Regions from separate parts of the Homo sapiens genome. Here region 2 is linked to region 1. The links come from fine-mapping of genetic effects on gene expression. Tissue or cell type: transverse colon. Region 1 holds a variant in brackets; the other region holds the start of a gene. All regions are shown on one strand. Distances are from middle to middle.

Region 1 (3,019 bases):
GTAAATATATTTTCTTTGTTTTAATAATATATTTATTTTAAAGTTATCTTATGGATATTGAAAAATAGGTATCCTATGAACTGAAATTTATAAACTGCGACATGAATCTCCCTTACCCTAATCTCCAAAAGCCTTGCTCAACATGAGATTATTAAGATGCCAATTTAGCATAGTTTTCAAAAGAATTACTGTTTCTTGTCAAAATGAAAATATTTAATTAAGTAGCATCTGTGTTATTAATTCCCTTCTTATCAGCAATAGATAATTAAACAAATAGACGGTCAAGATTTCAGACATAGAATACTACTATTTGTTTCCAAAATAAGTCATTCACTATTTAAAACCCAGAGGATACCCATTGCAAATAGCACAAGTATAATCAATCAGTTGCCATAAAACACAAAGGCTCACGGATATGAAACAAACCTGATATGCACAAAACTCCTTGCTACAGCTTGTATCTTTGGGAGAGAGTGCCGGTCTTATGATGTTTGAATGGCACTCCTATTGAAAGAGTTATCCAGAGATGACAGCTTCAAATAACCCTCTCGAAAGAAGACAGGTCAACTCTGTCACATCAGTTGGGAACTCATCATAGGAAGCTCTCTAACCAAATCTAATTTCTGATATTGACAACCTGCTGGCTAGTCACCATAGAAGAAAAGATCACAGATGGCTCTGCAATTTCTATCACCCAAGATGAATTAATATGGCATTTTAAAACGATCAGCCAGAAAATAGAAAGATTCTTTCTCCATGATTCATGAATTACCAAATGACCCTTGATTCCAAATCTCTCAATAATAACTCTCATTCTACCTTTTCTAACTCCTGAAGGTGATGAGATCAAAATACTACATACCTACTACTATTTTGCAGCAACATCTAAAACTAAATGCCTATATCAAAAATATTTCTAACAATAAAAGTTACGGTTAAGGTATTTTATAGGTATTGATTTAAAATATAACTGAAATTTTCTATCATATAAAATCAAAACTACTAACTGGCCATCTTCATCTCCAATCTTCTCATGTAAACTGTTTTGGTACATAAGGAGATTATTTAGTGCCCAGCATGCGGCCTCCTGGATTAGGGGAGAAAAAAGAAATCTGTCAAAATATAAATGACTGGAAAACATAATTTTGAATAACTCTAATATTTATGAGAGTCCTACCTGCACGTGCTTGTTCTTTCTATGCCACGTTAATGCTTTGTAACAGGCTTCCAGCCAAAACAATTTATCTTCTTCCCCCTCATCATCATTCTCTTGATTCTCATTCTTTTCCTCTAAATCTTGATTTAAGAAAATAGTCTCAGCTTGAAAAAAATTGAAAAATATATAAAAACATTATATATATTATCTACTTAACAGTTTGACCAACTCTAAGTCCATATTTTGAAATATTACCAACAGAATGAGGTGTGCTTTAGGAGAAGCCTTGGTCAATTATAAAGATAATTTTTAATATATTATACGTCTCATAATGCTACCATCCTATCCAGATAAATAATAAAATGAGGAAGAAGGTACCAAAAAAAAAAAAAACCTAATAGACGAGAGGAGGATTATTTGAAAAGATTAGTTCATCACAGCACTATTCACAAGAGCAAAGACATGGAATCAACCCAAATGCCCATCAATGATAGACTAGATAAAGAAAATGTGGTACATATATACCATGGAATACTATGCAGCCATAAAAAGGAATTATCTCATGTCCTTTGCAGGGACACGGATGGAGCTGGAAACCATTATCCTCAGATAACTAACACATGAAGAGAAAACCACACACTGCGTGTTCTCACTTATAAATGGGAGCTGAACAATGAGAACACATGAACACAGG[G/A]AGAGGGACAATACACACTGGGGCCTGTTAGGGGATGGGACTGGAGAAGGGAGAGCATTAGGAAAAATAGCTAATGCATGCTGGGCTTAATACCTAGGTGATGGGTTAATAGGTATAGCAAACCACCATGGCACACGTCTACCTATGTGAAAAACCTGCACATCCTGCACGTGTACACCAGAACTTAAAACACAAATAAATTATTTTTTTTGAGATGGAGTTTCATTCTTGTTGCCCAGGCTGGAGTGCAGTGGCACAATCTCAGCTCACTTCAACTCCTACCCTCCAGTTCCAAGCGATACTCCTGCCTCGGCCTCCCGAGCAGCTGGGATTATAGGTGCCCGCCACCATGCCAGACTAATTTTTATATTTTTAGTAGAGATGGGGTTTCACCATGTTGGCCAGGCTGGTCTCGAACTCCTGACCTTGTGATCCACCCGCCTCGGCCTCCCAAAGTTCTGAGATTACAGGCGTGAGCCACCATGCCCAGGCACAAATAAAAATTTTTTTAAAACAGATTAGCTGCTTAATGACAAAGCTAAATCAAGAATGATGTAAAGCAAAACTCTACATTGAGATGTGTATATTTGTCACAACTGTTAGTTTCCTTGAAAGTATCCTCTACTGGAAAATGAGCTACACAGGACAGAAAAGGCATTGAATGCTTCCATCTGTACATATGATTCTCTTGTTACAATGTTCATATTTGATGTCAAATGCCTCTGTAAGAATCCCCTTTTTAGTGAAGTTACTTACTGAGGAGGGCCAAACAGCTGAGCGCTGAGATCTGCAATGCTGCATTCTCTGGGTACTGCTGCACAGCTTTCACCACAAACTCATGGACTTCGTTTAATACCAGGATATTGAAAAAATTACCTAAAAGTTAAGTGAAACATTAGCTGAATTCTCATCCATGGAAGTTAAATTACCTTTAACATATAACACTATTTACATCAATAATTTTGAATGGTGATGAATATTCAATGGCATTAAAACATTTACTTTAATTAAAATAGCTTAATATGATTGAGTAAAGTTTTGAAATTTTATTTTATGCTGTCCTTTAATTATCTTACTTAGACAATGGAAGTGATTGAGCAAAAGTAATGATACTAGTTTGCGTTGTATTAACTGTATGTTCTCTGATTCCCTCTCATGTCATGTCTGTG
Region 2 (2,809 bases), 26 kb after region 1:
TTTCTGACTGCACCTCCAAGGAGTTCAAAGTCCAATTCTCTTTCTCTGCATGAGTTAACATGCAGATGACAAAACTGATTTCAGTTCCCCAAATCTCTAAGTGCTCCGAAGGAAGTTATCACCTTGGCCTATAATTTTGTTTTGACTGTAAATCATTCTTAATTACCATTTTTAAGGCCCCCTTTAAAAAAAAATCCAAGATACATAGCAAATTTCTGGGTTTCCTATGGTACAGATTGTAAAAGTTTCACTTCTACATGCATTTTATATGACAACAGTTGCAAACTATGAGGGTCTCATAAGACATCACTTTCTTTAGATACTACAAGGTATACTACAACTAAAGGCTAGAAATCTTTGAATTTTAAAAAGTGCTGAACTCTACAAGAGTTTGCTAGTGACAAAGTTGCATTTTATCACTATTAATTATTCCCCTTTTCCAAACTATTCATAATCTTCTCATCTAGGACATGCTCTGTATTGGGAAGATACTTGGAATAGTCAAGTCTAAACACTAATGAATTCATCTTGCCAATAACGAGACTAAAACCGAACCCATTTTTATCCTCCTTCTACCACCATCCATACTGTTGGTTTTATAAAGTTACTTCTTAAAGACACTCAGGGAACACATACTGGGGCTCTTCATCCCGTTTACATTGCGTAATGATTTAACAATATTCCCATCTTAAAATCACAGTCAGAGGTTCCTCAAGCCAAATTTTGGGAATAACCAAGAACTCTCGGCTATATTAACATTGCCAGTAAAACGTCTCCTTCCAAACAGAAGGGAGAATGAGTTGAAGTGAAAACAATGCCTTTACCTGCTGCACACTCGCGACTCTCATATAGGAGTCCAAGACGATCAACAGAGGCACATGGATATTTTTGCCTTGAAATAACTTGGAGGCTGGAAAACAAGTGGGTGGGGAAAAGAAGCAAAGTCACAATCCACAGCACCCCCTCTCCTTTTTAGTCTGAAACGGGGAGAAAAGTCAAAAAGGTGAAGACCTTCCTGAAATTCTCAGCTGCTTTCTGCCCTAAGGAAAGGATATGGGAGTTTGCGGCTCCTTAAGAGTCCGGGTTTGAGCAGGGTCAAGGGGAGGAGGACAAAATTTGCAAATGTAAGGAGGGGGAGAAAGTTTGCAAAAATAAAAGCACAGTTTATTTTCAAGTGATTACCGCGCTCGGAGTACGTGAACACCAGCAGATCCTCCAGGATTTGGACCAGCGTTTCTATCTGTTTTCCTTCCTGGACATTGTTCAGCCTGACTATCAACTTCTTCAGAGTTTCCTCGTCCTCTTCGCACCCCTGACAGCTGCCACTAGCCATGGTGGCACCTGCTTCCAACCCGCCGCCCTCCCAGCATGAACGTCCGCTGCTCAGGGAACCGGCAGGGGCGCCGGCCACAGCTCCCCGGGGGCGAGCTCAGCTCACCGCCCGCAGCCAGCGCTCCCCGCGGGCCCCATCGGCGCCCACGCCCGCCTGTTTATGAGGAAGGAGGCAGCTCCCCGCCCCGCGTTGCCCTCCCTCTCCGGAGCCCTCCTGCTCGGCTTCCTCCTCCCCCACTCAGGCCCCAAAAACGAGCTCAGGGGCCTGCCAGAGGCTCCGCCGAGGCGACGGGCCGCGCAGAACTCTGGCGGCGGCCGTGGGGCTGCTGGAGCCGGGCCTGGCTGGGATGACCGTGACCGTGGCCCCCACGCACGCCTAGACCGGACCCCGGGCGGACGCCGCCTCCTGGGACCAGATTCCACCGCAGCGGCGGCGCGGCCGGGAGTCGCGCGGGAAGAAACTGACTCAGCGGACTCCGCTGAGTCCACAGGCCCGGAGCCCCGCAGCGGAGGCGCGCAGTGCGCAGCCCGGCCGGCCACCCTCCGCGACCCGCCAGCCGGGGATCCTGCGGCCCCACGGAAGGTCTGGGAACTGGGAGCAGGAAAAATGAAAGCCGCCTATCTCCAGATCTAAGAATAGAAATCAGGGCGCTGGGAAAAGAGGACACCGCCCAGATGGCCCCTTTTAGGAATACATTGTCTTTAGAGTTCCACCTATAGGGAGATGAGCAATTTTCCCCCAAAGGATGGAAAGAGGGGTTAGCCATCAAAACTGCCCCCGCTACTCTTTTTTATGATTTTTTGTGACTGTTAGTGGGAGAGGAAATAAACATTGTTTCCCTGTGAGTTATCTGAAGCTCTGGTCACCAAAAGGCCACTAAATTAACTTTTGGAAATTTGAGTTGCACTAGGCAGGATCCTGATACTTGGGACACCCGAAAAGTAATCAGCTCTCAGAGCTATTAGAGCTGAGACAAAGGACAGGGTACATGAAATGAAAGGTGAAAAGTTGAGAGAAGCAAACCTAAATACTCTTCTCTTGGTATTCAGAAATACTTATGAGTATGGGTGTCTATAACCCCAAAGTTTTTTGGTTTTGTCTTTTGATTGTTTGTTTGTTTGTTCTGTTAAGTACCTAAGTAATGTGTTTTTAGGAAAAGAAACCTAGCAAGAACATTGTAGACAAGGCTAGGCAAAGATGATCTATCCTTCAGGTGATGTGTCTGTCCTCAAGATCACTTACAAAGAAGAGGATTGGACTGGAAGTTACTACTTCACAATTTTAGTTTTGTTTTCACATCTGTTACTTCAATCCTGATGACAATTCTGAAATGGATACAACTACTACTATGTATCCTTCTTTCACTAGTGAGGAAATTGAGATTTGGAATTGAGAAGTGAAGAGCTTTGCTGGAGTCACACAGGTGGGAAGTTGAGAGCCAGGACTTCAACCCAGCAAATCTCCTAACTCCAGGTA

What was found. PIP is the estimated chance that this variant, and not a neighbour inherited with it, causes the effect.
Region 2: LRRK2 starts here. The variant in region 1 is fine-mapped to the expression of LRRK2 in transverse colon (GTEx, PIP 0.95).

Annotation. Positions count from the first base shown.
Region 1 is chr12:40,249,533-40,252,551 of GRCh38, reverse strand. LRRK2 (leucine rich repeat kinase 2) reads right to left here. Exons shown (of 51, transcript NM_198578.4): 8 at 2,607-2,726; 9 at 1,178-1,320; 10 at 1,008-1,087. Among named protein-coding and RNA genes, the nearest start is that of LRRK2, 26 kb to the right of the region's middle. The variant G/A (reference allele first, on the strand shown) is at 1,851.
Region 2 is chr12:40,223,656-40,226,464 of GRCh38, reverse strand. It overlaps LRRK2 (leucine rich repeat kinase 2), which reads right to left and starts at 1,468. Exons shown (of 51, transcript NM_198578.4): 1 at 1,183-1,468; 2 at 825-910. The coding sequence starts at 1,333. LINC01779 (long intergenic non-protein coding RNA 1779) reads left to right here and starts at 1,562. Exons shown (of 1, transcript NR_186584.1): 1 at 1,562-2,809. It overlaps LRRK2-DT (LRRK2 divergent transcript), which reads left to right and starts at 2,643. Exons shown (of 9, transcript NR_186757.1): 1 at 2,643-2,806. RefSeq lists an enhancer at 55-144 and a silencer at 1,343-1,702.